Homo sapiens: one gene and its partners. The protein of the gene in region 3 interacts with the protein of the main gene of each other region in a pairwise test. Each region holds a gene or a part of one and is shown on either strand. Other genes may lie near its edges.

What was found.
Region 1: the proteins of ERN1 (region 3) and TAOK3 interact in binary tests that used the Homo sapiens proteins (3 or more experiments, as listed by UniProt).
Region 2: the proteins of ERN1 (region 3) and DNAJA3 interact in binary tests that used the Homo sapiens proteins (3 or more experiments, as listed by UniProt).
Region 4: the proteins of ERN1 (region 3) and POLA2 interact in binary tests that used the Homo sapiens proteins (3 or more experiments, as listed by UniProt).
Region 5: the proteins of ERN1 (region 3) and ASIC4 interact in binary tests that used the Homo sapiens proteins (3 or more experiments, as listed by UniProt).
Region 6: the proteins of ERN1 (region 3) and TMTC1 interact in binary tests that used the Homo sapiens proteins (3 or more experiments, as listed by UniProt).
Region 7: the proteins of ERN1 (region 3) and WBP1L interact in binary tests that used the Homo sapiens proteins (3 or more experiments, as listed by UniProt).

Annotation. Positions count from the first base shown.
Region 1 is NC_000012.12:118,194,590-118,198,847, forward strand, and holds part of TAOK3 (serine/threonine-protein kinase TAO3), read right to left. Parts: intron 1-4,258. UniProt on the Homo sapiens protein: Serine/threonine-protein kinase that acts as a regulator of the p38/MAPK14 stress-activated MAPK cascade and of the MAPK8/JNK cascade.
Region 2 is NC_000016.10:4,445,875-4,450,132, reverse strand, and holds part of DNAJA3 (dnaJ homolog subfamily A member 3, mitochondrial), read right to left. Parts: intron 3,248-4,258; coding exon 3,119-3,247; intron 1,401-3,118; coding exon 1,285-1,400; intron 1-1,284. UniProt on the Homo sapiens protein: Modulates apoptotic signal transduction or effector structures within the mitochondrial matrix. Affect cytochrome C release from the mitochondria and caspase 3 activation, but not caspase 8 activation.
Region 3 is NC_000017.11:64,119,615-64,123,872, forward strand, and holds part of ERN1 (serine/threonine-protein kinase/endoribonuclease IRE1 precursor), read right to left. Parts: intron 1-4,258. UniProt on the Homo sapiens protein: Serine/threonine-protein kinase and endoribonuclease that acts as a key sensor for the endoplasmic reticulum unfolded protein response (UPR).
Region 4 is NC_000011.10:65,275,245-65,279,502, reverse strand, and holds part of POLA2 (DNA polymerase alpha subunit B), read right to left. Parts: intron 3,612-4,258; coding exon 3,505-3,611; intron 774-3,504; coding exon 580-773; intron 1-579. UniProt on the Homo sapiens protein: Accessory subunit of the DNA polymerase alpha complex (also known as the alpha DNA polymerase-primase complex) which plays an essential role in the initiation of DNA synthesis.
Region 5 is NC_000002.12:219,531,018-219,535,275, reverse strand, and holds part of ASIC4 (acid-sensing ion channel 4), read right to left. Parts: intron 3,519-4,258; coding exon 3,374-3,518; intron 3,276-3,373; coding exon 3,148-3,275; coding exon of another isoform or gene 3,130-3,147; exon of another isoform or gene 2,962-3,129; coding exon 2,799-2,961; exon of another isoform or gene 2,394-2,798; coding exon 2,337-2,393; exon of another isoform or gene 2,014-2,336; coding exon of another isoform or gene 1,697-2,013; exon of another isoform or gene 106-1,696; coding exon 1-105. UniProt on the Homo sapiens protein: Does not exhibit measurable stand-alone pH-gated sodium channel activity but may form pH-gated heterotrimeric sodium channels. Its activity could also depend on alternative gating mechanisms.
Region 6 is NC_000012.12:29,776,685-29,780,942, forward strand, and holds part of TMTC1 (protein O-mannosyl-transferase TMTC1), read right to left. Parts: intron 1-4,258. UniProt on the Homo sapiens protein: Transfers mannosyl residues to the hydroxyl group of serine or threonine residues.
Region 7 is NC_000010.11:102,802,747-102,807,004, reverse strand, and holds part of WBP1L (WW domain binding protein 1-like isoform 1 precursor), read right to left. Parts: intron 1-4,258.

The DNA of each region.
Region 1 (4,258 bases), on a different chromosome or scaffold from region 3:
TCCTATTCCCTCAAGGACATTTCTTTTTTTTTTTTTTTTTTTTTTATCCCGCAAAGGTGGTGAAAGCTGTTCTTTTTTTAAAGAGGGGATGGGAAAAGAACTAACATTGACTAACAGGAAGGGTCAAATAAAGCTTTAGGAGTCAGGGTAGAATGGCTTTTTTTCCCCCTCCACCAGACGGAGTCTTTGCTCTGTCACCCAGGTTGAAGTGCACTGGCACCATCTTGGCTCACTGCAACCTCTGTCCTCCCCAGGTTTAAGCAATTCTCCTGCCTTAGCCTCCAGAGTAGCTGAGATTACAGGCGCGTGCCACCACGCCCAGCTAATTTTTGTATTTTTAGTAGAGACAGATTTTCACCATATTGGCCAGGCTCGTCTCGAACTCCTGAACTCTTGATCCACCCGCCTTGGCCTCCCAAAGTGCTGAGATTAAAGGTGTGAGCCACCGTGCCTGGCCAGTAGAATGACTTTTTTAAACAATAGTTTCTGGAACACTTATTCTGTTTTATAGAATGAAGTGTTGTCCCATTAAAAAAAAGAAAAAAATGTTCTCTAAATAATCCCTAGAAAGGGACCCTTATGACTGGCGTTCAATAAGCATACCTAAAATAACACTGATTCAAGAACAATGCTTTTAATATATTAAAGTCTTATGATCTATACTAATAGAAGGCAGCAACAGGCAAAGGGAATTAATTTTATACTTTAGTAAAATAAAAATACACCTTTTGATTAACAAATTTAAAAGACAGACTTTGCTGCTTAGGATATTATTAAAATCTATTTGCTATGGCTCTATACACAATGATTTTAAGGAGTAGGATGAAGGCTCAGAAGCAGGCTAGATGACAAGGAAACAATCTGGATTAAAAATTTGTACCGGAGTCACTTGTGAATAATCAAGAATTGAGGTGTGGAATTGTGTCCTTGGCCATCTTCAATTTAGTTCACAGAACATTTGTTGAGCGCTTACTATGTAACAGACACTGTGCTACGTGGTAGGTGAAAAAAAAGGTTCCTGAAGAACTACCAGTCTAGAGATGTGGTGATGTTCTTGTTATTGAAAAAAGTAGTGTGGCAACACTAGCCAGGGGGAAAAATAAGTACCTAAAATTTATTTTGTCAGAATATGCCTTTAGCCTTATCAAATCATTCTTGCTCAAAAAGAAGACTGGATTGGGCCAGTCGCAGTGCCTCATGCCTGTAATCCCAGCACTTTGGGAGGCCAAAGAGGGTGGATCACGAGGTCAGGAGATCGAGACCATCCCGGCTAACACGGTGAAACCCTGTCTCTACTAAAAATACAAAAAATTAGCCAGGTGTGGTGGCAGGCGCCTGTAGTCCCAGCTACTCAGGAGGCTGATGCAGGAGAATGGCGTGAACGCAGGAGGCGGAGCTTGCAGTGAACTGAGATCGCGCCACTGCACTCCAGCCTGGGCGACAGCACGAGACTCCATCTCAAAATAAATAAATAAATAAATAAATAAATAAATAAATAAATAAATAAAAGGAAGTTTGGATTAGGATCCCCTCAGGGCCTGGGAAAGACCAGAGTAGAGGCAAGGACTGGAGAGTAAGTAACCTGGAATTCTGATGTCAAAGGAAAATTTTCAGTGTCCCACTTTGCATTTTGGGGGCTTGATCTGTGGTAGAACTGTCCTGCTAAAATCAGGGCATCTTTATTCTGGAAGCAGAGCAGTTAAGTGCAAGTCATGCTCTCACTAGCTACTCATGGATTTCATTTTATTTATTTTTTTAAGGTCCTTCTTTGAAAAAGCAAATTTATTTCCTATCTAAAATGGTAATCTGTTTCAGATCTGTTTTGACTACCAGTCAAATTAATTTGACTAATTTAAGATATGTCTGCTTGTGAGCCGAGATTGCACCACTGCACTCCAGCCTGGGCAACACAGTGAGACTCTGTCTCCAAAAATTAAAAAAAGAAAAGAAAAGATATATCTGCTTGATTATAACAATCAAGGGACAAAAGATTCCTTCTCCCATATTCATATATTTTGGTATTTATTAAGCACGTTCTTATTGTGTTGGGTACTCATTTAACTTTCATTTAACTATTATTTAACTTTCTCAAACTGTAAAGATAGCTAAGATTATTTAATCCTTTTGATCCATTATGTTCAATGAACCAGTAGAGTATGATATTTAATATTTGGTAATTAATTTATTCCCTGCCTTCTTTTTGGTTTTGTTGGTCTATTCATTCATTCCACAGTTATTTACTGAGCATCTATGCTGCGCCAGGCACTATTCTAGGTATTGGATTTGTTATTTGTCCAAAGTAAAATAAAACTAACAGAGGCAGATAGAACTATAAATTAGTTTCCTCATTCCTAAGTTTAATATACAAAATTTTCTGTTGAGAGTTAAAAATCCTATTTATGTTCCCAAGTGAAAAAGTGTTAGGAATTTGAGTAAACCATCCAATACAAACTTCATGAATAATTTTTATTTCTATTGTTTTTAAAGATAACATATTTTAAAGCTCAGGTACAAGAACTAAATGGATTTCATGAAAAGATACCATATCTTAAGTTTTCATATATATTCTATTTTTTGAGCTCACTTACATTTTAAAGGTAACTCATCCAAAGTTTTATTTGCAAATGTGTTTTGATTTTCTTCCATCATATTTCCTCTATATATTTCATGATAAAATAGGAATATATAACTTAAATTCTTCCTGACCTATATATTTTTTGTGGATCAAATGCAATTATCTTCTACTTCAGAATATAAATTTTATCTGTTCTACTTAAGTCATCACACATCAGGGAGAGAAAAGTATTGAAACACTCATATTATCACAAGGTAGGTCTATGACAGCATGCAAAAATAAAATTAAAAATCCCATTAGTTCTAGACCAGGGTTTTCTTTCTTGTTGATTATGCCAGTAGTGTCTTTCTTCTAATTCTGGTTGCCTATCTGAGAAGTCCTGGAGCAAAAAGATCCAACTGAATTCCTCTCTTTTGCCCCCTCTACTCATAGAGCCCCAGGGGTAATAGAAAGGAAAGTGCCAGACCTGTCAGCACTCATGATCACTCCCTCCAAAAAGACAGCCCAGCAAAACCTTCTTTTTTTTTTTTTTTTTTTTTTTGAGACGGAGTCTCACTGTGTTGCCCAAGCTGGAGTGCAGTGGCGCAATCCTGGCTCACTGCAAGCTCCGCCTCCCAGGTTCACGCCATTCTCCTGCCTCAGCCTCCCGAGTAGCTGGGACTACAGGTGCCTACCACCACACCCGGCTAATTTTTTGTATTTTTAGTAGAGACGGGGTTTCACCATGTTAGCCGGGATGGTCTCGATCTCCTGACCTCGTGATCCGCCCACCTCGGCCATTGCGCCTGGCCTCAAAACCTTCTTTTTTACTCTTCAAATACATGATCACTTGCCCATGTTGAAAGGACACCAGCTGGCAATGCTGATCTCTTGGTAGATTTCTGCATCTGTCTGACATCTTTGCTTTCCTCAAATTGCTTCCATGTCTTCCTGATAATCTGGGTCCTTTGCTGTCTCTCTGGTCCTGAGGCACTGTCCACATAGCACACCAGCCATAGCTTCTATGGCCTTCCCCTTTTCCTTGAACATACAAAGCTCTCTCTGTCTCAGTGCTCTTGTACTTGTTGCTTTCTGACTCATCCCCATCTCTTACCCCAGCTGGCTAGCTTCTATTTGTTTTTGAAATTTCTGCTTAAATGTCACCTCATCAGGTAGGCTTTTCTTACTCCCTGCTAGAGTAAGTCCTCCTTTTACCCGAGGCAAGTTTCTTTCTTTCTTCTTCTTCTTTTTTTTTTTTTTTTTTTTTGAGTCTCACTCTGTTGCCCAGGCTGGAGTGCAATGGCGCGATCTCGGCTCACTACAACCTCTGCCTCCTGGGTTCAAGCAATTCTCCTGCCTCAGCCTCTCGAGTAGCTGGGATTACAGGCATATGTCACCAGGCCCGGCTATTTTTTGTATTTTTAGTAAAGACGGGGTTTCGCCATGTTGGCCAGGCTGGTCTCAAACTCCTGACCTCAAGTGATCCACCCGCCTAGGCCTCCCAAAGGGCTGGGATTACAGATGTGAGCCACCACGCCCAGCCAAGAAACATACTTTTGAAAGAGCATACTTCTAAAAGGGCACAACCAACAGGTACACTCAGGAAGACTTGAAGGTCTACAGTATTAAGATTATTGGTTTAGAGAAGGACTTATCAAATTCTTCAACTTATTTATTGATGATGATGGACATCAGAGTAATGAG
Region 2 (4,258 bases), on a different chromosome or scaffold from region 3:
ATTTTACCAGTGTGTATGTGAAGCAAGTAAGAAATTATCTAATTAGGCCAGGCGCAGTGGCTCATGCCTGTAATCCCAGCATTTTGGGAGGCCAAGGTGGGCGGATCACAAGGTCAGGAGATAGAGACCATCCTGGCCAACAAGGTGAAACCCCGTCTCTACTGAAAATACAAAAATTAGCTGGGCGTGGCGGCACATGCCTATAGTCCCAGCTACTTGGGAGGCTGAGGCAGGAGAATTGCTTAAATCTGGGAGGTGGAGATTGCACCACTGAACTCCACCTAGAGACAGAGCTAGACACCATCTCAAAAAAAAAAAAAGAAATTATCTAATTAACAAAAAGCATGAGTGCTCCCGAGGGGAGTCAGGCATGTCCCGCCCTAGGTACCCACAGCACTCTGCCCAGGCCACCTCTCCAGCTCCTAACAGTGCTAGTAACATCAACAAGAAAAGCAACGGGCCAGGCGTGCTGGCTCACACCTGTAATCCCACCACTTTGGGAAGTCAAGGTGGGCAGATCACCTGAGGTCAGGAGTTCGAGATTAGCCTGGCCAGTGAAACTCCGTCTCTACTAAAAATACAAAAATTAGCTGGGCGTGGTGGTAAGCGCCTGTAGTCCCAGCTACTCGGGAGGCTGAGGCAGGAGAATCATTTGAACTGGGGAGGAGGAGGTTGCAGTGAGCTGAAATGGCACCACCACATTCCAGCCTGGGCAACACAGTGACAGATTCCTTCTCAAAAAAAAAAGAAGAAAATCAACAATAGCAGCAGCAGCAAAGCAATTCCTATGTGTTGTTCATTTAATTCTCCCAACAACTCCAAGAAGTCGACCATTCTGGCCGGGCATGGTGGCTCACGCCTGTAATCCCAACACTTTGGGAGGCCAAGGTGGGTGGATCACTAGGTCAGGAGATTGAGGCCACTCTGGCTAACACGGTGAAACCCCATCTCTACTAAAAATACAAAAAATTAGCCGGGCATGGTGGCAGGCACCTGTAATCCCAGCTACTCGGGAGGCTGAGGCAGGAGAATCGCTTGAACCTGGGAAGCGGAGGTTGCAGTGAGCCGAGATGGCGCCACTGCACTCCAGCCTGGGGGACACAGCGAGACTCCATCTCAAAAAAAAAGAAGTTGACCATTCTACTATGTCCACTTTACAGACAGATAACTCGGGCAGGAACCACCTGACTTACAGGGAGCAGTAACCTGCCCAAGCCACAGAGCTCCAAGGGCAGTGCCACCGCAGGACCAGGCGGGCTTGGCCACAGCCTAGGGGGCACTTACTTTGGAACTCGTATCTTGATGTGGATGTAGTGGTCTCCGTAGCCGTAGCTGTTAATCCGGGGGATGCCTTTCCCACCCATCCGAATCTTCTGGTCTGTCTGAGTCCCAGGGGGGATCTATAAAGAAAGAAAATCTGTGGTTTCCCCTGGTCCCCAGTTGCTCAAATAAAAAGTTTTCACTACATGAAGACAATCTTGATAGGAATTCCTTGAAAAGAACTACCACTGGCTCACGCTCCCATCACTTTGGGAGGTCGAGGCAGGCTGATCACGAGGTCAGGAGTTCAAGACCTGCCTGGCCAACATGATGAAACCCCGTCTCTACTAAAAATACAAAAATCAGCAGGGCATGGTAACGTGCACCTGTAATCTCAGCTACTCAGGAGGCTGAGGTAGGAGAATTGCTTGAACCCGGGAGGCGGAGGTTGCAGTGAGCCAAGATTGTGCCATTGCACTCCAGCTCTGGCTGACAGAGCAAGACTCTGTCTCGGCAGAGCGGTGGTGGAGGGGGTGGGTAAAAAAAAAGGCCGGGCGCAGTGGCTCATGCCTGTAATCCCAGCACTTTGGGGGGCTGAGGCAGGCAGATCACGAGGTCAGGTGATTGAGACCTTCCTGGCCAACATGGTGAAACCCCATCGCTACTAAAATACAAAAAATTAGCCAGGCATGGTGGCGCGTGCTTGTAGGCCCAGGTACTCAGGAGGCTGAGGTGGGAATCGCTTGAACCTGGGAGGCGGAGATTGCCACGAGCCAAGATCGCGCTACTGCACTCCAGCCTGGCGACAGAGCAAGACTCTGTCTCAAAAAAAAAAAAAAAAAAAAAAAAGAACTGCCACTGGGCTGGGCGCAGTGGCTCACGCCTTTTAATCCCAGCACTTTGGGAGGCCGAGGCGGGTGAACTGCCTGAGATCAGGAGTTGAAGACCAGCCTGGGAAATACGGTGAAACCCTGTCTCTACTAAAATACAAAAAATTAGCCAGGTGTGGTGGCGTGCACCTGACGACAAAGCGAGACTCCATCTCAAAAAAAAAAAAAGAACCACCACTTGGGTTTCTGGGCCAAGCCCGCCCACAAGCACATGGAAATGAGCTAAGTTGGGTCTGCCCAGAGCAGAGCCTGTGACTAGGATGAGGGGGCAAGAGTTTGGGCAAGTGAGCCCAGGAAGCAGGAGTGAGGGAGCAAAGCAGGAAAAGCCAATACAGGGTGCGTGGCTGAGGTCGCTCCCTGGCCCTTGGAACCACAGGACCCTGGAGAAGCCAGGGAATAGCCCCCAGATGGAGGAGAAAGCCTTGGCCCAAAATGCCCACCTCCTTCATGGAGGTTACCCCAAGGTTCCCCACAAAGAAGCTGGAGAAGGTTCTGAGGCGAATACAGAGAATGATGTGGCCTGGAGGTGGGAAGAGCTGGAGGGGCAGGTCAAGAGAGAGGTGGGGGACAGGTGCTGGCAGCACACAGGCAGCCATCACTGTGGCAAAAGGGATATGCACCGCCCGAGTCTTCTGCTCTTGGAGCCAGACACTGGACAGAAGCAAGTGCAGAGAGCACAACCCAGGGTGAACCCTTCTGTGTCCTGAATGCGCCCAGTTCCCAGGCCCCGCTAACCAGTGTGGGAGTGATGCCAGCCAGGAACTGCTTCCCATGCGATTATAGACTCAAGGCCTGTGGCTTGTGGTCCACACTCAAGGAGCAGCCTAAAATTCCTCATGTCCTCCCCTGTGAGTGCCCCCCCACATGCTGGTCACTCATGGGTTCCAGGCCACTGGTCAGTTCTTTTCCATTTCAGAAAAAGAGCAATAAAGTACAGGGGTGACAAAGGTGTTCTCACACCCTCTTACCGTCACGTTGATCGTCTCGTACAGGCCCTGGGCTCTGGCTGTACCCCCAAGAAGAGCCTGAGCTATAGAAATAAAGAGGTCGGAGTGGATGTCTGCGCCGTCCCTCCGGAACACAGGGCTTTTCTGCACCTAAGGCCAAACATGACAGATGCATGTGAAGATAAGTCCACTGCAGACTAAACACCAGCTGCATGCCTGGCCAGGCCCAAGCTCAGACCTGACAAACTACACACCCCTTCCATACATAAAGTGCAGTGTTGAGGGAAAGAACTGTCCTTCCAACAAGGAGACACCATCCCAGGCCCAGGAATGACATGTTCTACATATTTCAACACTGCAATGTTCTACACACTTGAAATGCCGAAATGGAAGCGTGCCTGGATTTCCTCAGTCTCAGATCAAGCCATTCAATCGTGAAGGGAAACAAAAATGTAAAACTGGCTTTTGATTTTTTTTTTTTAATCTTACTTTAGCCAGGCACAGTGGCACACACCTGTAATCCCAGCACTTTGGGAGGCCAAGGTGAGTGGATCACCTGAGGTCAGGAGTTTGAGACCAGACTGACCAACATGGTGAAACCTTGTCTCTACTAAAAATACAAAAATTAACCAGGTGTGGTGGCGGGCCCCTGTAATCCCAGCTACTCAGGAGGCTGAGGCAGAAGATCCACTTGAACCTGGGAGATGAAGTTTGCACTGAACAGAGATCACACCACTGCACTCCAGCCTGAGCAACAGAGCGAGACTCCACCTCAAAAAAAAAAAAAAAAAAATCTTACTTTATTAGAAAGTATAGGCCAGCCGTGGTGGCTCACGCTTGTAATCCCAGCACTTTGGAAGGCTAAGGTGGGTGGATCACCTGAGGTCAGGAATTCGAGACCAGCCTGCCAACATGGTGAAACCCCATCTCTACTAAAAATACAAAAATTACCTGGGTGTAGTGGCGCATGCCTGTAGTCCCAGCTACTCAGGAGGCTGAGGCAAGAGAATCGCTTGAACCTGGGAGGTGGAGGTTGCAGTGAGCTGAGATCATGCCACTGCACTCCAGACTGGGCAACAGAGCAAGACTCTCTTTCCAGAAAAAAAAAAGAAAAAAAAGGGAAGAGTAAATAATATAACAAGCATGTCATACCCACAACCC
Region 3 (4,258 bases):
CTCCTGACCTCAGATGATCCGCCCGTCTCAGCCTCCCAAAGTGCTGGGATTACAGGCATGAGCCACCACGCCTAGAACTAGAAATAAAGTTAGAACTTTATTTCTAGTTCTAACACTAACTAGCGGACTCTATCAATCCTAACCTCTCTGTAAAATGAGCCAAATGCTGTGTCTAGTCTGGTCCCGTGCTCTGTGACGTGACTGGGAATTTGGAGATGCATTTGTTCTTTCCAGGATTAAGGTACAAAAATTACTTGAAGGCCTCATCCTGGCTGCACATCAGAGTCACTTGGGCCTTAAAACATTTTTTGCTGGTTTATTTGGTAGAGATGGGGTCTTTCATTGTTGCCCAGTCTGGTCTCAAACTCCTGACTTCAAGTGATCCTCTTGTCTTGGCCTCCCAAAGTGCTGGGATTACAGGTGTAAGCCACTGAGCCTGGCCTTAAACATTTTTTTTTTAAAAAAGAAAAGATGCCGGCCCCCACTCCCAGAGATTCCAATTTCATTCACATAGGATGGGGCCCCAGCACAGCGTTTTTAAAAAGCTCCCCAGGTGACTGAGTCATGGCTGGGAAGCACCGCCTCAAGTAACACATTCCTAGCCACAGTTGTGGCCCCCTGTACAGGTGATTCTCTCACTCCTAGTGGCCCCTCAGGAGTCATGGGCCATTTGCTTTAAGAGAAGAGAGATCTGATTTACCTTGGTCAACAAACTTCTCTGACTCAACTGGAGATCAATGACAATGTCAGGTTCTAGGGATGTGACAGCACTGTTTGTTCAGAGAATGTACAGAAAAATTCGGTTTCCATGACAGACACTCCTGCAGCCCAGACAAACAATTATTCCTTCATCTGACAGAGAGGGGGGAAATAATCCACTGGAGAATGGGATGGTTTTGAATTATAATTATAAATTAGTCTACTAACAAAGGAAGTCATGTTTAATACATGAGAGGACAACTCTGGGCCAAGGTTCATTTTTTTAACAGTGAAACATCATGCTGAGTGAAAAATGAAACTGACATGAAATAATCACAAACTGTTTACCTCATGGAGTTTGGCAATGGAAAAATTAATCTCATTACTGATAAGAAGAGCCCACCAAAAGAACACTACACACTATGGGTCACGTCCACCCAAGCAAATATCCTGAAAGCTCCTCTAGTTCTGTAGAAAGACACACAACTGGTGCAATCCCATTAAAGAATATAAAATATAGCTGAAGCAATACCTCCCACCCCCATCCACAACCCACTTGCTTGATGATATAATACAGCCCCTTTATTGGTCTTAATGAGTCTCAAAGAAGAATTCAATAAATATTTGCTGAGTGCCCCCTACAGTGGGTATAACCAGCATGCCACGTTAAATGCCACAGAGGATGCAACCATCAGCAAGCCAGGGTCCCTGCCTTCTCGGATGAACCAGCAAGGGAAGTGAGACACACTCCCAGGGGCACCTTCCTTCCCCCCTTGCTCCTTCCTTCCCTCATTAGTCTCCTCTGAGAGCTACCTAAGCTAACTTGAATCCCTCCATTGTGGTTTAAGAGCCAGAGTCACAGCCACTGTCTCTCTCCTGTCATCACAGACCTGCTCCCTGGTGCCAGAACTGCTTGGCAGGTGGCGCCTCTGCAAAGGCAAACACCCAGAACCAGCACGGTAATGCAAGAGTTCTATCTTTTCAGGACTTCTTGGTGAAGGCTGTGACTGAGCTAGAGAAGAGCGGCTTGGGTTAAAGGCCTCTAAGGAAAGAACTTTCAGTTTTGTTCTTTCAGACATATGACTAGGCGAGATGTTACTGAAAACATGCACCTGCTTGGATATTATTAGACTCCAAGCAAAGAAATTAGCTTAAACTGTGAATTAGGCTTAGCAGGCAATTTTTTGTTGTTGTTGTTGAGACGGAGTCTCTGTTGCCCAGGCTGGAGTGCAATGGCAGGATCTCAGCTCACTGCAACCTCCGCCTCCCAGGTTCAAGCGATTCTTCTGCCTCAGCCTCATGAGTAGCTGGGATTACAGGTGCCCGCCACCATGCCTGGCTAATTTTTGTATTTTTGTAGAGATGGGGTTTCACCATGTTGGCCAGGCTGGTCTTGAACTCCTGACCTTATGATCCGCCCGCCTCAGCTTCCTGAAGTGCTGGAATTACAGGCGTGAGCCACTGTGCCCAGCCGAGCAGGCTTTTAATCCCTACTCTCTCCATGATTGCTGGATTTGACTCTACAGTTGAAAATGGCCAATTTCCTTGATGGAGACTCTCAGGTGAAGGCAGCATTCCCATCTCAAAATGGCATCTTCGCACAACTGCAACAAAGGGTAGAAGGCCATGATTCTTAACGGAGGAAAAATAACATTATCTGGGTATTTTCCTGAAGCTTACAAGAAAGCCTACTGGCCTAGACCTTCTCTAGATCCTTCTCTCATGGCCACATAGTTTGGTCAGCTCCTCAGGGTATGACTGAGGGTAGCCAGACTGGTTTGTCCCAACATACGCACCAGAACATAAGCACTGCAGGGGCTTCTCTTCAAAGGGAGGTAGGAGGATCAAGTTTAAGGTTTGGTTCTGCCACTCACACATGACCCTGGACAGGTTACCAGCCCTTGCTGGTTGCCTTTTCCCATCTGTCTGCTCTGGAAGACAGAGCAGGGTAGTAATTTTTCTCAGCTTGGGAGAGGAGGGTAATGCCTGAGAGAGGGTGCCCCAAACACCACCCTCCTAGGTTCTGATGTGCTCATACTGTTACTGAGGGATGTGCGCCATATTTCTTATGTGCAGCTGGAAGGGGAAAAAATTGAGACTCATTGGACTACATGGCCGAGAGCCCATCAAGCAGTCTAATGCACTCTGATTCCAGTTATCTTGGGAGGCTACACATCTATTCATACATGCTTCTAGGGCTCAAAATATTTCTGGAATTCTTTGGAAATTCCCTTCAAAGAATATACTTTTGAATCCCCTAAATGGTAAAAATCCTGTTCACTTTAGGATGGATTTCATTTTAATAAATAGCTGAAAACCAAATCCAAGTGTCCTCAATAAATTGTGTGATCAAACTGGGTAATAACAATTTTGATCAAAAGTGTAGTGTGAATCATGTAAAAGTCCTATTAAGCAAAGACTGGAAGGAATTGGAGAATGTTTTAACTTGTATAAGGATAACTGGCTTAAGAGTAAATATTTGTTTTCAAAGGTTCGTTTTTGTTTTAAAGTTGAATTATTAAATGGGTTAGATAAGTTGTTAAATTTAACTGGAAATTTTTTTAAGACTGATTTCAATAACCCGTAAATTCACGCCAAAGGGTGATTATTTTGAAAGGGACATTTTTTTTGGAAGAATAAATTTGCAGGAAAAGCAAAACAAAACAAAAAATAAAACACCACAGATATTACATTTTATTTTTAATTTTTTGTTCCCTTTTTTTTTCCAGGTAGATAATCCCAGCAAAAGGTAGTACTTTATTATCAAGTGGTACTTAAATATTCCTAGGAAAAACAGCCACATGTTTTAAGAACTGCAGCCTCCAAAAGGGACAATCAATGTATCAACTCTGATTTATGAAGTCTTAAGGCAAAAGTTTTAAATGGCCTCACAACCGACCATACAAAGAATCTTATCTGTAGGAGGCGGGCCACCCTCAAAACCAGAGAATTATCCCGAGGTATTTCAGGGTGCTCATGGGTGCCACATCTCCTAGAAAGTTGATCTGAAACCACTGCAAACTAAAGGACCCCACAAATGAGTCATTTAACAAATCCAAATAAAACATTTTCTCAATAGCTTTTAGGTACAAAGGGTATCATCCAGAGACTGCCTTGGTTTATTTACATCTTCAAAATATAAACAAAATGTAAACATTCTATTTTCATCCAACTTTTAAAGTCTACGCTCCTAAAAGAAAGTGGCCACTGATAAAAGAAAATAGCATACTTTAAACCGCCTATCATAAAAACAATTTAAGGTTAGTTTTGTTTTTAAAACACTCAACATTGCTTAGGGCTGGGGGAGAGGGCTGTAAAATACTACATACAATCAGCAAATTTCAATTCTAGGAATCTATCTCCAGGAAATAACTAAGCACTTAAAACTCATTCAAGAGTTTAGCAACAAGAAAGTTCATTACATTGTTATAATTTTTATAATGAAAATAAAAACATATCTGTGTAGTGAAAAAATAAAAAAAAATAAAAACAGCCTCAATATCTAAATGATTGAGTGGTCAAATTATGGTACATCCATTCCATTCAGAGAAATACTACG
Region 4 (4,258 bases), on a different chromosome or scaffold from region 3:
AAGACATTTCACTTGCCAAGAAGAGAAAATACAGCACATTGTAAAATATTAAAGTCAGTCATTTTACAGAAGCAGGAAGGGTGCCTGGACATCTGGCCAGTTTAAACCTTCTAAAACCTTTGCCAATTTTCCGATATTTGGTTGCTGAATCTGGCCTTCCATCTGGCCACAGGAGACCCCATAGCACAATTCCAGGGAATCAGCATGAACCCCACCCCATCTCCAAGTCTGCCCTTTACTCAAGTCCTCACTGAGGTTTTAGGCAAGTCAAGGCCAACCTGAAGAAGGCTTCTAACGAAGGAACCATGAATATCTTTAAGTTGAATTCCTTTACATCGTTCAAGTTTTTGCTGCTGGGAATGGTTATGTGCGTTTTAGCAAAGTGAAGTGACTTGGGGCAATCACTGATAGTATTGCCCGTGTCCCTCCATTACTAGGGCTTCCATGAGGACATCTACCAACTCATACATTGAAAGGCAACCTTGGAACTTGTTCTACCAGCCTAGCTGAAGCTTTGTTACTCTACACCCTTCTAGGTGGTTTTATATCCACCAGAATTTCAAAGGGAAAAACAATCACCTTCTCGAATGTCTGGGAGCTTCTGAAACATGGATTTGTAGCTCCCAGTTAGTGCCTCTGGACATCCCAAGACCTTCAGGCTGATGTTTCCAGCTCCTCCTCTCCCAGACCAAGATACTCCCTGTGCTAAGCCGAAGGAGGTAACCACTTCTCCTCGGTTACTTCGTGAGTTGTATTTCTGGGAGGGAGTAGCACTAATTGGAAGCAAAACAGGTTAATATTACTGTGTTCATATCTAAAGGGAGAGAAGAATAAAATGAGGTTACCTTTGGAAATGGGGACTGGAGAAAAGGAAGGTGGCCTCATAGTTTATAAATTGAATCAGTTTAATGGGGTTGGACATACCCAGACCTTTAAGGAATTTCAGGAATGAAGGGCTGAGGAATACCAGGCTGAGGAATACCAAACATTTTTAGAGAAGTTTAGAGACAGAAACGTATTTTAAAAAGTTGTCGTTCTCTTGGCATTAAAACTAAGCAAGGCAAAAAGATCCCCAGATTCTGAATTGATTAAAAGGCAAACTTTAAGTCCCATTTTTTTCTTCTCATGAATTTTTAGCATTTATTGGAACATCATCTGAGCCTGCAACTGTGGATAAGCTAAAACTTGCTGAGCATATATAAAAACTCACAATATGGTTCAAGGTAGAAACAACAATAAAATGAAATTCAAATTAATCAATTTTCCCCAGTGTCTATGGAGGTGGGTAAGTAATGAATTAACAGTCTGGTGATGTGCAAACATTCCCATTTTTCTAGGCTCAACTGCCAAGTTCTCACATTTCCACTCCCTGACTGGTAAATTATACCTCTAAGAACACATGGATATTGCTGATCTGCTTAGATGACAGTGAGGTCTTCTAATCCTCTGGTTGTAAACACGCCGTACAGAGAGGTCTATTTAAAACAGGCTTTGTTTAATGCACTGAAACTCTGCGGGAACCAGTTTTATGTGGGGCACCATCGCAATTAATGCCATCATTCTTTCTTTTCACAGCCTACAGAAAATGAGCTCAATTAATTATCTCAATCTCCAGTGCCACCTCTACGTGAATAGTTTAGAAGTTACTTTCATACATTACAAAACCAGTTTCTGCTGTCAGCTTTATTAGTGTGCATTAAAAAATGACTAGGCAGCATTTTGCCAGCTTCTCCAAGCTCTTCCCTGGGAAGCTCCATGAGCCATCCATTACAGCAGGCCCTTTAATGCAGCAAGATGCTCACATGAGGACAGTTGTAAACAGATCTACAGGTTTCAGAGCATTGTATTGACATTTGGAGAATATAACTCCTGCAATGGTGCTGGCACGTCTATAAGAACCATCCCTACATACCAGGTTGCAAAGATGCTCTTAAGTCTAGAAAGCTTTCTTCCAAAAAGCCTGAGAACTCCCCAAAGCAGCAGTAGACTACCCTAAAGTAAAACTGTCCTTCAAAATCCAATTACTGCCAGGCATGCTGGCTCATGCCTGTAATCCCAGTACTTTGGGAGGCTAAGGCAGGCAGATTGCTTGAGGCCAGGAGTTCGAGACCAGCTTGAGCAACATGGTAAAACCCCATCTCTACAAAAATTATAAAAATTAGCTGGGCTTGGTAGCATACACCTGTAGTCCCAGCTACTCAGGAGGCTGAGGTAGGAGGATCACCTGAGCCTGGAAGGCCAAGGCTACAGTGAGCTATAGTTGTGCCACTGCACTCCAGCCTGGGCAACAGAGTAAAAGCCTATCTTAAAAAAAAAAAAAAAAGAAAGAAAAGAAAAAAAAAATCCAATGACCACTCACCTTGAATGACTGCAGAGCTTCTATCACCACCTTTCTAAAGTGATAGAGCTGAAAAGGCCGAGAGCAGTGGCACATGCTTGACATCCTACACTTTGGGAGGCCAAGGCGGGTGGATCACCTGAGGTCAGGAGTGCAAGATCAGCCTGGCCAACAGGCGAAACCTCGTCTCTACTAAAAATACAAAAATTAGCCAGGCATGGTGGCGAGCGCCTGTAGACCCAGCTACTCGGGAAGCTGAGGCAGGAGAATCGCTTGAACCGGGAGGCAGAGGCTTCAGTAAGCCAAGATGGTGCCACTGCACTCCAGCCTGGGTGACAGAGTGAGAGTCCATCTCAAAAAAAAAAAAAAAAAAAGTGATAGAGTTGAACAATCTTAAGCTCTGGTTCATCTAGAAGTGATCCAAAGTAGAGGTAATGACTCCTGGCAGTTGGTGTTTCCCTGAAGGGTTAATACTACTGCTCCGGAGCCTCATCTTGATGTGGAAACTCCTAAAAACCCATCTACTCAGCAGAGCACTTGCCTATGGAATTCTCTAATATGAGACGTGTCATTTATGGATTTCAAAAAATTACATATGATCTTTGTGGATTTATGTGCAATGGTGGCAGAGGGACAAAATACCAATTAAGTCAGGGCAGAGTCACAGTGACAAGAAAACTCTCAGAAACTAGTTCTAACCTGACTTGGAAACAATAAACAGGTTATGAAACATTATGAACAAAGATATGTGCTTTTCTTTAAAAAAAAAAACTTTAGATGAAAAGAAAGAAAAAGAAACCCAACAAAACACAAACAGAAGCAGGTGGAAACCTACTTGCCTCTACTGACAAGACCTGTTAAGACTCTTAGACTTCTGAATAGACAGGTTGTTTTCAATACAAGATATCAGTTCCCGATCTAGGAAATGAGCCCTAGAAAAGTGGGTGGAAAGTGAGTTTCCTTAATTACCGTAAGAAACAGTAATTTTCCACAAAGAAAAGGAGAGCAAGGAAGGCAGAGAGCAATAGGCTTTCAAGCCAATTCACTGCAGAGGTACATGCCCACCTATAGTTAATTAATAACTCTGCTGTTAGCCTTCCTCAGATAGCCAGAGAAAGGGGAGGGGAGGCCAGCTTTATGGCACTTGAATGAATTATGATCCATACCTTGGAGAGAAACTTGACGGTGAGAGTAGCTGATGGGGGCTACGAGTTGACACACTCCTTTTTGTTAGGGGGGTTTCTGGGGTAGAGATAGCTCGCTTCTGAGAACCCTAGGGAAAAAAAAGGAAAACAAAATCTCAGTCCTACTAGACCCAATACTAATTAAGTGTATAGTACCTTGGAAGAAAAGGGAGAACATGTCCAAACGAAGGCACAAAATAGGACTGGGTGGGTTCTCTTCTTAAGGCCCCATCATCCAAGCATAATCTCAAAAAGAAATCTTCAACAACTGTAACCAACATTCAGGACACTGTCCCTATTTTGAAGGCAATTACGAGAAAGCAAACATTTTCCAAAAAGGACCACCAGGCTGGTAATGTGTCCTGTCAAATCCTTCATATGTTTACTTTCTGTCCCTACCTCTATGTTTTCAAACAGATATGAGTTTTACAATGCATAGTTTTGATCTATGTGTACACATTTTCCTGAGAAGGAATGGGACATTACTACTTACTTTGGCAAAGTCTACCATACATTTTCAAAGGAAATGACTCCAGGCAGATAACAAGGTTGAGCTCATACTTGAAGAGTTAGCAAACATCTGATGGTCACTCCTTTTTTTTTTTTTTTTTTTTGACTCATCAACAAGAATCCAAAGATAAGCCCAGAACGGAGGCTGAAACCTACAGTCCAGAGACCTATTGCTCCCTAAAGTCTAGGATAATCGACTGTAATAGAGAAAACAAAATCCTTGCCT
Region 5 (4,258 bases), on a different chromosome or scaffold from region 3:
AGCCCCTGTTGGGGATCCTGACCATGGAGATCTCTTTCCCATAGCGTGTCAGGTTGCAGGGGGTGGGGCAGAAGCACGGGCCCTCAGGGCCCCCACCCAGGGAGTCTGCAACACAGAGGTAGCAGCTACAGTGGGAGTTGGAGAAGGGTGGTCCAGTGGCCCACCAGCTGCAGAGAGGAGGCCCAGGGGCCGTCCTGAGGCAGGCACACCCACACTGAGGGCCTTTACTGGCCAGCCCCAGTGCTTCCTAGAGGGGACTGGCTGCAGGTCCCCGCCTGAACCAGCTTCAGACTGCTCCAGAGAGCAGATATAAGCAGAACCCCCCAGCACCCTCCCAACCCCCTGGGACTGGGGGGGGGTCCTCGTGGCCCAGAGGGAGAACACAGCCCATCCACCAGAGCTAATCAACTATGTGAGGCCTCAGACACACAAGGAGGTGTGGAGAGGATGCTGGGATGCATGCATGGATGGATGGATGGATGGATGGATGGATGGATGGATGGATGGATGGCAGATGGCCAGATCGACGGATGGGCGAACAGAAGAACAAATAGACCGACAAGCTTCCCAGGATCAATGTGCTGGGCTTTCTCTGCCTGCCCCTTCAGATCCACTCTCCACTCTTCAACCTTGCTCTGCACCCTATGAGGCTGATCTCCCCCAAATGCATCAACTAAACTCCCTTGTCCTCTGGCTTTGGGTTCAGTTTGGCCAACAGGAGGCCCCAGCAGAAACAGAAGGTGAGAGGGAAGAGATGCCAGGGTATTTCTCCCGCCTGGCTTTCTCACTGCCAGGCCGTAGGTGGCAGAGGCTGTGCTCCTCCAGCCATGCTGCTGTCAGTCAGCCCTCTCGGACAGCCACAGGTCTCTCTCTCCTCCTGCAGGCCTGGTGGGAATGAAGGCTCCCCATGTTGCTAGCTCTGTGGTCTACCGCTGTGCCTTGCAGGCACCTTACTCCTGATCACATATCTGTTCCTTCACTAAACATCTCCAATCACCCCTGTGACAGATGCAGGTGGTGTGGGGGACAGAGAAGGGCTGGATGTGTGTGGCTGCCCAGTGTCTCAAACCCAGCCCCAAGGCCCCAGGTGTCTGGATTACTGCAGCCAGCTTCGCCAGTCCCTGGCTTTGAGTCTCCTCCCCTCCTATCTCATTGGACTCACCTGGCATTCCTGCCTTGCCACAGGCCTTTGTTGGCTTCCTAGAGCCTCCCTCCTCTTTTTTTTTTTTTTTTTTTTTTTTTTTGAGACAGGGTAACTCTGTAGCTCAGACTAGAGTGCAATGGTGTGATCCCAGCTCACCGCAGCCTCAACCTCCCAGGCTCAAGCCTATCCTCTTGCCTCAGCCTCCCGAATAGGTGGGACTATAGATGTGCACCACCACACCCAGTTCACTTTTTTATTTTTTGCAGAGACAGGGTCTCACCATGTTGCCCAGGCTGGTCTTGAACTACTGGGCTCAAGTGATCCACAGACCCTGGCCTCCCAAAGTGCTGGGTCTACACTTGTGAGCCACCGTGCCTGGCCTCCCTCCTCTACTCTTTCTACTCCCTCCCCTGTTCTCTGCCCTGCAGCCACACAGACCTTTCAGTGCCCCGGACACAGCATGCTCTTTCTGGCCACAGGTCTTCAGTGTATGTCCCCCTTTGCACCTGACTCTTATACACCCATCAAGCCTCAGCTAATGTGTCCCTTCCTCTAGGAATCCTCCCTACCTTCCCAGGCTAGGGCTGCACACCCCTCCTTGGGGCCTTGCAGCACACCCGAGGCTCCCCTCTCCAGGAGTTGACGGGCTGTGTGGGAATGGCTGTCCACAGCCCTGCCGGGGTGTAAGCTCTCCAAGGGCAGGGCTGTCGCCCCCACTCTCACCTCCAGTACCCAGCACAGGCTGTAAAGGTCTGGAGAATGCGCGAATCGATGAATGGATGGATAGATGGATGAACTGCAGATCAGGCAAGATCTGTGGACAGATGGGGTTTGCCTTACCCACACCGATAGCCAGCAATGCATTTTTCCTGAGACCAAGAGAGAAGTCATTTCACTTTCTCAAAGTGGGTGAGCTCATTGGCTGAACCAAGATGAGAAGCCCAGACCTTCACTCCCAGTCCTGGCTTCTCTGCAACCCCCCACCCTGCTGCCTCCACTTACCCAAGTGTCTGTACCTGCAGAGGTCCGCAGACCTCTCCCCAACCCCACTGAAGTATGGGCTAAGGCTCAACCCCCAGGAAGAACCCTCCAGGAAGAGATTGGGAGGGGAGGATCCAAGACAGTGAGGAGAAGAGTGGACAGAGACATGAAGAGGCTGATGGAGAGGTAGGAAAGGGTAGGCAGCACGGACCCAGTGTGTGGTCTGCACACTCGATGTAGATATTTGGTGGGCAGATGGTCTCATTGCCTGAAAGGAGAGAAGATTATTCCTGGAATCTACGATCACTTCCCCTGTCCCCCACACGCCCAAATGTAAGCACATACATGCATGCACACACATATGCACACATTTGCATAAATGTGCTTGAACACCACACACACAACCCCCACAAATACGCAACCACGGATATAAATGAGCATGCACGTACACAAATACATATTAACATGCACACAGGCATCTGCATGCCGGCATTCCCACATGCATATGTGAAACCATGTTTAAAAATCCCAAACACTCACACTCACACGGGTACAGACACATACACATGTTGTATACATGCACCTGCCTGTGCACATGAGCAGTGCCTTGCCCCGGGAGGCTCTGGAGCCTAGCAGGGTGGCATGGAGGGCTGGCTGGGGGTGGGGTGCCCACCTGGCATGTGCACCATCCGGCAGTGGCAGCGCTGAAGCACGGCCTCCTTTTCACAGCGCAGCCGGCAGGCAGACACACTGTAGGCCGAGTAGCCCTGAAGCTCAGGCTCCCTGAGCTCACTCTCTGCGCGGCAGTTGCCCCAGGGCTGGGGCAGGTAGGTCAGCTGCAGAGGTGGGGCATGATGAGGTCATGCTCAGGAATCCCACCCAGTCCTCCAGTGCCCACAGCCCCAGCAAAGTCAACACAGCTGGCAGGCTCTGAGCTTCTAGAGGGCAGGTTTGCTCCACATCCCCTCTGAGCCCAAAGGCGAGCCCTGTGCCCAATCCAGGGCCTAGCAGGAGATGCTCACCCGCTGTTCCTGGCAGGACACAAAGGTCTGGAAGCCTGGGGACACCCCGAACCCCAGCTGGTGGATGTAGGGCGGCTCCTCCTGGCTGTGGATCTGCACCCGAATACCTGCCTCAAACGACGTCTCATCTGCACAGCAGAGATGGGGACCTTTGGAAACCCATCCCAGGCAGAGGGCCCAGGCCCCAGTCCCCAAGGTGGCCCTTGTCCCTTTCCGGCCTGCGTACTTGTCTCCCTCCAGATGGGCAGGTACTCCTCCTGCTGGATGTCCAGCATGATCTCCAGGCCACTGCCCATGCCCCCTGCCCGGCTGGGCAGCGAGCTCCGCGGGTCCGCGTTGAAGGTGTAACACTTCCCATAGCGAGTATAGACCTGGGAGGTGGGGTGAGAGAGCAGGAGGGGAGATGAAAGGAGTGGCCAAGGCAACTCCGAAGTTCCCTGCTCCCTGCTGAGGGCCACCAGATCTGCTTGGACACTCCAGTCCCGTATCCTAGCAAGCAATGTACAGCCCAGCCTCTCCAATCAGCGCCAACTTTTCTACTGATGGCCTCCCTTAGATGATTAGAAAGCATCTCCAACCCAACAGCACATCAACACCTTCCCAAACCCTGCCTTCCCCCCACCGTTTTCCTCCACCCTAGTAAACCACCCCACTATATCCACCCAGTTTCTCAAGTCGGAATTTCTGAAATCTCCCCTTCCATCACTCCTGCATCCAAGCCAACAGCTAGTCCTGGGACACTTCTTTCTCTTCTTTTTTTTTTGAGATATGGTCTTGCTCTGTTGCCCAGGCTGGTGTGCAGTGGCACGATCTCGGCTCACAGCAGCCTCAACCTTCCAGACTCAAGCCATCCTCCTGCTTCAGCCTGACAAGCAGCTGGGATTACAAGCATATGCCACCAAGCCCAGCTAATTTTTTTTTTTTTACTTTTTATTTTATTTTTGTAGAGACAGGGTCTTTCTATGTTGCCCAGGCTGGTCTTGAACTCTTGGGCCCAAGCAATCCTTCTGCTTTGGCTTCCCAAAGTGCTGGGATTACAAGCATGAGCCACCACATCCAGCCTCCAGCCCACTTCTGAAATACATTTAGAATCCATCCACTTTCCTTCCTT
Region 6 (4,258 bases), on a different chromosome or scaffold from region 3:
GGGAGGTAAAACTCAACAAAGCAGGGTAAGGAAATAAGGGTAAAAAAACACAGAGGAGTGTTTGCTACTTTGATCACCTGGCCACCAGGGAAGGCCTCCGGGATGAAGTGACATTTAGGCAGAAACCAAAGGTGGTGAGCACATAAGCCCTGCACAGATCTGGGGAAAAGCATTCAGGAGGAACCACCAATACATGCAAGGCCTTTGGTAGCAGTGGGTTTGGCCTGTGCAAAGAACAAGGGCTCTGGAATGCTGGTGCAGAGAATGAGGTGGAGATTGGTAGACTAGGGATCAGAGAGGTAGCCAGGGGTCAGATCAAACAGGACTTCATAGAAAAGAAACAGTATCTTATTATTTGGGAAAGAAACACTGCCATTGTGTGGGCATGATCAGGCATTCCTTACCCCCCTCTCTCTCTTTTTATTTTTTTTAACAGAGTCTCGCTCTGTTGCCAGGCTGGAGTGCGGTGGTGCAATCTCGGCTCACTGAAACCTCTGCCTCCCAGGTTCGAGCAATTCTCCTGCCTCAGCCTCCCGAGCAGCTGGGACTACAGGTGCACACCACCATGCCCAGCTAATTTTTGTATTTTTAGTAGAGATGGGGTTTCACCATGTTGGCCAGGATGGGTTTGATCTCTTGACTTAGTGATCCGCCCGCCTCAGTCTCCCAAAGTGCTGGAATTACAGGGCATGAGCCACCGTGCCCGACCTCCTTACCCCTCTCTTTAAGTGAGATGATGACATACTCAAAGTTAGGAAAAATATGAATGTAGCTCCAAAGAAAGACAGAAAAGACATTGGTTGGTAATAATAGACTGCTTCGGAAGGTGATTTCCAAGCCTTGATTCAGGGACTCACCTATAAAAACCCTCATGAGTCCAAAAATATATTCCTCTCACTTTCTGTCCCTCCTACACTACCAGACTGTAGTCTATAAAGTATATCCTACTAGATTATAATCACAACCTCCACCTCTTGGAGCTTCCAAGATAACCTTAGGGTGGCATAAAATTTTCAAAGGCAGTTTTTCATTTTTCTTTATAAAATTTTTCTTGCCTCCAATCACATTTTCCCTTGGTTATTTCTGTCACTGAACATCCTAGACAATCTAGTCAAACATCCTAGAGAATCTTCACTTGTGTCCTATGATAGACTTAGAAAACAAACTTATCAGCCTTGTGGCAACAGGCTGTGTCAAAATGAAATCCCACAGAAGTTGAATGAAAAGGAATAGAAACAAAAGAAACATATCACCGTTTCTTTAAGGTTGTGGGCATGGAGGTTAGCTAGTGCTTATTTTCATGGTTGGCATACTATTTGTAACTAAAAGATGCAAACTACTGCAAAAAACCTTCAAGATCAAACATTAAAATGCTGTAAATTCCTACAGCTGCACATATTAAGATAGTCTATTTTTTGGCTCTGACATTTTAAACCACCCACTTTCACTCTTATGGTTTATATTACCATCAGAAGCTCTTAATAAAATAAAGCATTATAGCAAATATAATCTAATAGGCTAAACACACAGAGAAAGAATCAGGATTTTAAAGTCCTTTCATTTGCTTAGTTTCCCCATCTTTAACATTAAAAAATCATTGGTTCTTGCTTGTTGAAGCAGACTTCCACCTGCTTACTGAATGGAATGGCACTGCGAACAATTCAGCAGTATCTTCTTCCCAAGAGAAGGGTTGGGATAAAATTAAAAAGCTAAGTTTATTTTAAACCATTCTGGACCATTTTTCAAGGGAGGGGTTATGGACATCATAGAGTTTGGTTCTGTGTCAATTCACCCTCTACAGAGTAGCTTAATGCATTTCTCTTGATTTCAGGCTTACAAACAGGTCATGGCCAGGGAAGGAAAAAGAAGCAAAAAAAAAATGTTATTGCTGCAGAGTCACAGATGTTTTGATTCTGTACCACTATGGTCCAAAAATATTCTTGCATGCCCTTGGGCATGATCTTATGAAAAGACTGAATCTGAGATTTGACTGGAAACAGAAATTCATTGTAATTCTAAATTCACTTCAAGGAACACAAAGAGATGGTCATTTGTATCAGTTAGGGTTAGACTAGAAAACCAGAGCCACCATGAGTGATTCAGAAGAAGGGATGTACTATGGGGATCTGACCTTTTACTATTGCTGGGGCTGGTTAAATAGCCTATGTAAGTGTGATGCTTCTGTGTCTATTATCCAAGTTGAAAGCCAGCAGGGCAGCAGGGCCATTCTGGAAGAGAGGGTGAATGGACTTGAAGTAGGGGGAAGCAAAGGCAAAATGGAACCCACAAGGATGAGCTAAAATACATGTCTGTTTTCCACTGCCTTTAAGGCTCCAACTTTAACAATGCAAGAGGCTTGCAAAAAGACTGGCACTCTTCCCTGCAGAGCTGCATACACACCTGCACCATGATTCCAAGTAGCTGAAAGACGAGATCTGGAGAGCACTGGAGGAGCTGAGGGCCTGGGTGCTGCTGCAAACCAACAGCATGTTCACCAACATTTCTGTGACAAACTGCAAGAGGCCTGGCAGCAACAAAACCTATGCCAACATTCTGAATGTGATCTTAGCCACTTCACTTTCACCTTCCAAATCTTGCAGAAATTTTTCTTATGGTCAGCCCTAACCCAGATCATCTTGCAAAGGCAATTCCAAGAAACATAGTCCCAACTTAGCTAAAGTGACATAGTGCAAAGCCACCACATCTTGGTAAGCTGCTTTCATATTCCACTGTCCCATCCCCTCAAAACTGGTAGAAGTAGATGGTCTGCAACCCATTTCCTCATTTCAAATTTTAGTTCATTTCTTACTTGAAAAAATACATAATTAGTATCTTTACTACCTAAGCAAGCACTTTTATTATTTATTAGTATACAAGCAACCACCTTTATAGCAAAAAGTATTATGCATCTATAAATTACATTTATTCTTAAGGAAATTTCTAGCTCTCAGTATGCGTAAGATACATTCAATGAATCAAAAATCAACTTACATTTTAATAAAAAATATGTTTGGAGTATTGCACTGAGAAAGGTCCTGTGAGGAGGACAAAAAGACAAGCTACAGAGTGGGAGAAAATATTTACCAATCACATACTTGACAAAGTACATGTATCTAGAATATATAAAGAACTTCAATACTCAACATTTAAAAAAAACACTTAAAAATGGACAAAAGACACAAAGGCACATTTACCAAACTCTTTGGTTTAATATCAGATGTTCAATAGCTTCACCCATTAGGGAATGGTAAATTAATGAGGTACATATATAGGTGTGATATCACTACATACCTATCAAAATGGCTACAGTAAAAAACAGCAACAATACAAAGTGCTGGCAGAAATGCACAGAAACTGGATTACTCAGACACTGCGGCTAGGAACATCTGGAAAACAGTATGGCAGCTTCATATAAAGCATATGAACATGCAGCCACCATATGGCCCAGCAATTGGACTCCTGGGCATTTAGAACAGAGAAATAAAAATCTATGTTTACATAAAAACCTGTAAGTGAATTTTTATAGCAGCTTTATCCCAGCCAAAAGTTGGAAACAACCTAGATGTCCCCAACAGGTGAATGGTTATACAAACTGTGGTATATCCATACAATGGAATACAACTCAGCAATAAAAAGGAACAAACTATGGATACATGCAACAGCCTGAATGAAGATCCAGAGACATGCTGAGTGCAAGAAGCCAATCTCAACAGGTTACATACTATGTGATTCCATTTATACAACAGTATTAAAATGGCAAAATGATAATGGAGAACAGATTCATGGTTGTTATGGATTTGGGTGAGGGGATTATGGATTAGGCAGTTGTTATAGATTAGGTGTCCATGATTGCAATAAAGAAGTACTGAGGATCCTTGGGATGGAATTGTTCCGTATCTTGACTGTGGAGGTACTCTCTGAAATCTACACATATGATAAAGCTGCATAAAACTAAATACACACTTAGTAAAATAAAAAAAATAGAAGTACATATAAAATGGGTGAAATCTGACTAAATGCTGTAGATTGCATCAATATCAATTTCCTGGTTGTAATATTATACCATAATAATACAGGATGTTACCATTGGGGGAAATGGATAGAGTAGAAGGAATCTCTCTATTATTACTTAAAACTGCATGGGAATGCACAATTACATTAAAAAAGTTTTTAAAACGGGTTTGAAATCTCAAAGTTTTTGCTCAAACAAGCATAATTTAAGATACAGTTAAAATGGTTTGCACATATTTAAAGGGCC
Region 7 (4,258 bases), on a different chromosome or scaffold from region 3:
AAAAGAAAAAAATGCCTCCCTCCCCCACAAAACAGACTTGTAAAAATGAATAAATCCTTGATGTTTTTCCCCCTTATTTGTATATACACAATTTTCCAAAAGATCCCTTGGCATTTAGGGTGTGGCATCTGGCGACAGCTCTTTCTCTGTCCCCCTGGAATGCCCCCATTGAATCTCCTCACAAAGCTGCCCTCCACCAAGTGGGGCAGGACAGTGACATGCCCCCCAGCCCCGGCAGGCTGGCAGTACCATTCCACGGCACTTAATTGCTTTCAGTGGGTATCGCTGTTCAACCAAAGCTTCATGCTGCAGCCTTGCAGCAAGAGAACAGACAGAGGATTTTTTTCCCTGTTACCCATCAGCAGACAGGAAAATCCATTCCTAACCAGAGACCATAAAGTGAACTTAGCAGTCTCCTTTTTGGTCTTTCCCGGTTCACTAGTCAAACTTGCTTAACTTATGTTTCTTTCTTTATGAATTCTGGCTGACTTAAGAGTAGACACTGGCAGAGGAACCCTTGCAGAAGGGTGGAGAGGCTGGAAAGGAGTTATGGAGGTGAAACTGGCTACAGATGCAGTTTGATAACATCTCCTAGGGTTGTTGGGGTGGACACTCTGCTTAAGAACCTGGCTGCATGTGTATTTCGGAGTCAAGTCTAAATTATTCTGGGCTGACAACCATTTTGTATTACCTATACTTCTCTTACTTTCTCAGTGTAATCTCACAGTCCATTATACTTCTGTGTTACTTTATAACTTTTTTTTTTTTTACTTTATTGTTATTTATTTATTTTTTGAGACAGGGTCTCATTCTGTCGCTTAGGCTGGAGTGGCAAGGGAACTCAGCTCACTGCAACCTCCGCCTCCCAGGCTCACGTGATTCTTGTGCCTCAGCCTCCTCAGCAGCTGCAACTACAGGTGCGTGCCACTACACCCATCTAATTGGTTTTTTTTTTTTTGTATTTTTAGTAGAGACAGGGTTTCACCATGTTGGCCAGGCTGGTCTCAAAATCCTGAGCTCAAGTGATCCGCCCGCCTCAGCCTCCCAAAGTGCTGGGATTACAGGTGTGAGCCACCGTGCCAGGCCAATTTTTTTTAACTTATTTTTAAGAGACAAGGTCTCACTGTCACCCAGGGTAGAGTGCAGTGGTGTGAACGCAGCTCACTGCAGCCTTGATCTCCTGGGCTCAGGTGATCCTCCCGCTCTGGCCTCCTGAGTAGCTGGGACTACGGGCATGCACCACCACACCCCACTAATTTTGTTGTTGTTGTTGTTGAGATGAGGTCTCACAAGGTTGCCCAGGCTGGTCTCAAACAAACTCTGGTCTCAAGCAATCCCCCTGCCTCAGCCTCCCAAAGTGCTGGGATTACAGGTGTGAAATACCAGAGATGGCCAAACTTTAAAATTTTAAAAGTACATTCTCCCGTTAGGTAATCAGCATCTGCTTGGCGCAGTGGCTCACAACTAAAATCCTAGCTACTTGGGAGGCTGAGATGAGAGGATTGCTTCTTGTGAGGTCAGCCTGGGTAACACAGCGAGATCCCATCTCTAAAAAAAAAAAAGATAGCCAGCATCTAACTCTACTAGTTTTTTACCTGGCCACCAGTCATTTTTTCAATAGTTCTCTACCTAAAGGTAAACCAACTTCTAACTTTTATACTGCAATATATATGATCTATTTCACAGCTTTTACAATTTTTTAAAAAATTTAATTAAAATAAATTTTTGAGACAGGTATTACTCTGTCACCCAGGCTGGAGTACAGTAGAGACCAGAACTCACTACAGCCTCCAACTCCTGGGCTCAAGGAGCCCACTTTAGCCTCTCTAGTAGCTAGGACTACAGGTGCACACCACACCTGGCTAATTTTTAAATTTTTTGTAGATATAGGGGGGTGGTCTCACTTTGTTGCCCAGGCTGCTCTCAAACTCCTGGCTTCAAGTAATCCTCCCACCTTGGCTCCCAAAGTGCTAGGATTACAGGTATGAGCCACCACACCTGGCCAACATGGTTGTTTTTGTTTTGTTTTGTTTTGTTTTGTTTTCCCCGTTTTAAAGAAAATCTCATGCATTGGTTTTCATGTTTGCCAAGTATTTCTGCTTCTTCTCCTTCTAGGCATGTGGGTAGGCTTGAACTTCCTGACCCCCTTGTGACTGGGTGAGGCTTTGGGACTAAGTCTAACTAATGAATTGAGATTGGATGTGATATATGTCACTTAGAGGCCAAAATGTGTCTTGCTAATATGAGACCCTCCATTAGTCTTCCTTCTGTTTTGGCAACTGGCAACATCCCAGATGGTGATTTCACATCAGTCTGGGTCCCAGAGGATGGTGAAGTGGAAACAAAACTCTCATCCAACCTTCGATGGACACACAGTGTGAGTGAGGAATAAACCTGCTGTTTTTAGGTCACTAGGATTTTGGACTTGCTTGTTCCTGTGGCACAACTTAGCCTATCCTGACTACTGCAGTGTGATTACAAGTTTTTCTTGGGGAGAGAATTTAAAGTGTTCATCAGATTTTTAAAGGAATCCTTGATCCAGAAAAAGGCTAGATTCACTGAACCAGAAGTATAATTTTTTTTTTAAAAAAAAAAGGGCTTTTTTTTTTTTTTTTTTGAGACAGGGTCTTGCTCTGTCACCCAGGCTGGAGTGGAGTGGTGTGATCTCGGCTCACTGCAACCTCCGCCTCTCGGGTTCAAACGAATCTCCTGCCTCAGCCTCCCAAGTAGCTGGAACTACAGGCATGCACCACCACACCCAGCTAATTTTGTATTTTTAGTGGAGATGGCATTTCACCATGTTGGCCAGGCTGGTCTCGAACTCCTGACCTCAAGTGATCCACCCACCTCAGCCTCCCAAAGTGCTGGGATTACAGGTGTGAGTCACCACACCTGGCCAACTTAGGAAAAATTTTAATCTTTTAGCTAGATTTCAAAACCAAGGAAGAAAGTTCATTTTTACATTTTTTACTTTTTTTTATGGAGTGCTTCACAAATTTGCCTGCTATCCTTGGCCGGGGCCACACTAATCTCAGTATCATTCCAATTTTAGTATAGGTGCTGCTGAAGTAAGCACAAAGAAGAAAACTTTAAAAAAAAGGAAAACCTGGCTGGGCGCGGTGGCTCAAGGCTAGAATCCCAGCACTTTGGGAGGACAAGGCGGGCGAATCACGAGGAGACCATCCTAGCTAACACAGTGAAACCTCGTCTCCACTAAAAATACAAAAAATTAGCTGGGCGTAGTGGCAGGCACCTATAGTCCCAGCCACTCGGGAGGCTGAGGCAGGAGAATGGCGTGAACCTGGGAGGCGGAGCTTGCAGTGAGCCAAGATAGCGCCACTGCACTCCAGCCTGGGCAACAGACAGAGCAAGACCCTGCCTCCAAAAAAAAAAAAAAGGAAAACCCAACAAAAGACACACCAGAGACAGAAATATGACCCTCCTTTCCCCAACAAACACACACCTACCAAGAGACTACATTCCTCAAAGACAAGTTTTGAAAATTGTGAGTTCACTGTGGGGTGCATTTGTCATGCTAAGCAAAATGGAAAACATGTTTTTAAAAACAATCACAGTCCAGTGTAGGAACTGAGTCATGTGCCCCATGACTACACTACAAACCCCAAGAGTTCACTACAAACTTGGGAAAACACCACTCTTCAACTGGCAGGAAATTCCCCATTAGGAGGCTCAAGCATACTGTAAGTGAGCTCTCCTCCCATCCTGCAGGACGGTGGGTGACTGGCTCCCCTGGCCCTTCCTTGCTCTCAGCAAGAGCTCCTGCCACTGCCACAGTGGAAAAGGCCTGAATTTGGGAAATGAAGACGTCAGAGACTCGCAACTTCTTCTGAAAGCCCAGCCAACTTTCCTACAAGCATGACTGCAGACGTGGAAGAGAAAAGGCAGATGGCCTGGGTTCAAAGCCCAGCTTAAAAACACATATTCTAGCTTTGTGACCTTGGTCATTTTGGTTTTACTTCCCTCATCTGTAAAACGGGGAGAATAAAGGTCTCTAACTTATCTGGTCACTGTGAGGACTAAATGAGTTAATATATGTAGTATACGCAGAACTATGCCTGATGTATGGTAAGTTCTTAGTGTGTTTATTGTTGTTGTTACAGGCTTAACCATAGATGGGCAGGGTTTCCTTTAAAATTTCCTTTCAATTTCCCTTTTAACCCCCAAAAAGTATTCCATAAAGAAACACAGGGCCCAGTGTGGTGGCTCATGCCTGTAATCCCAGCACTTTGGGAGGCTG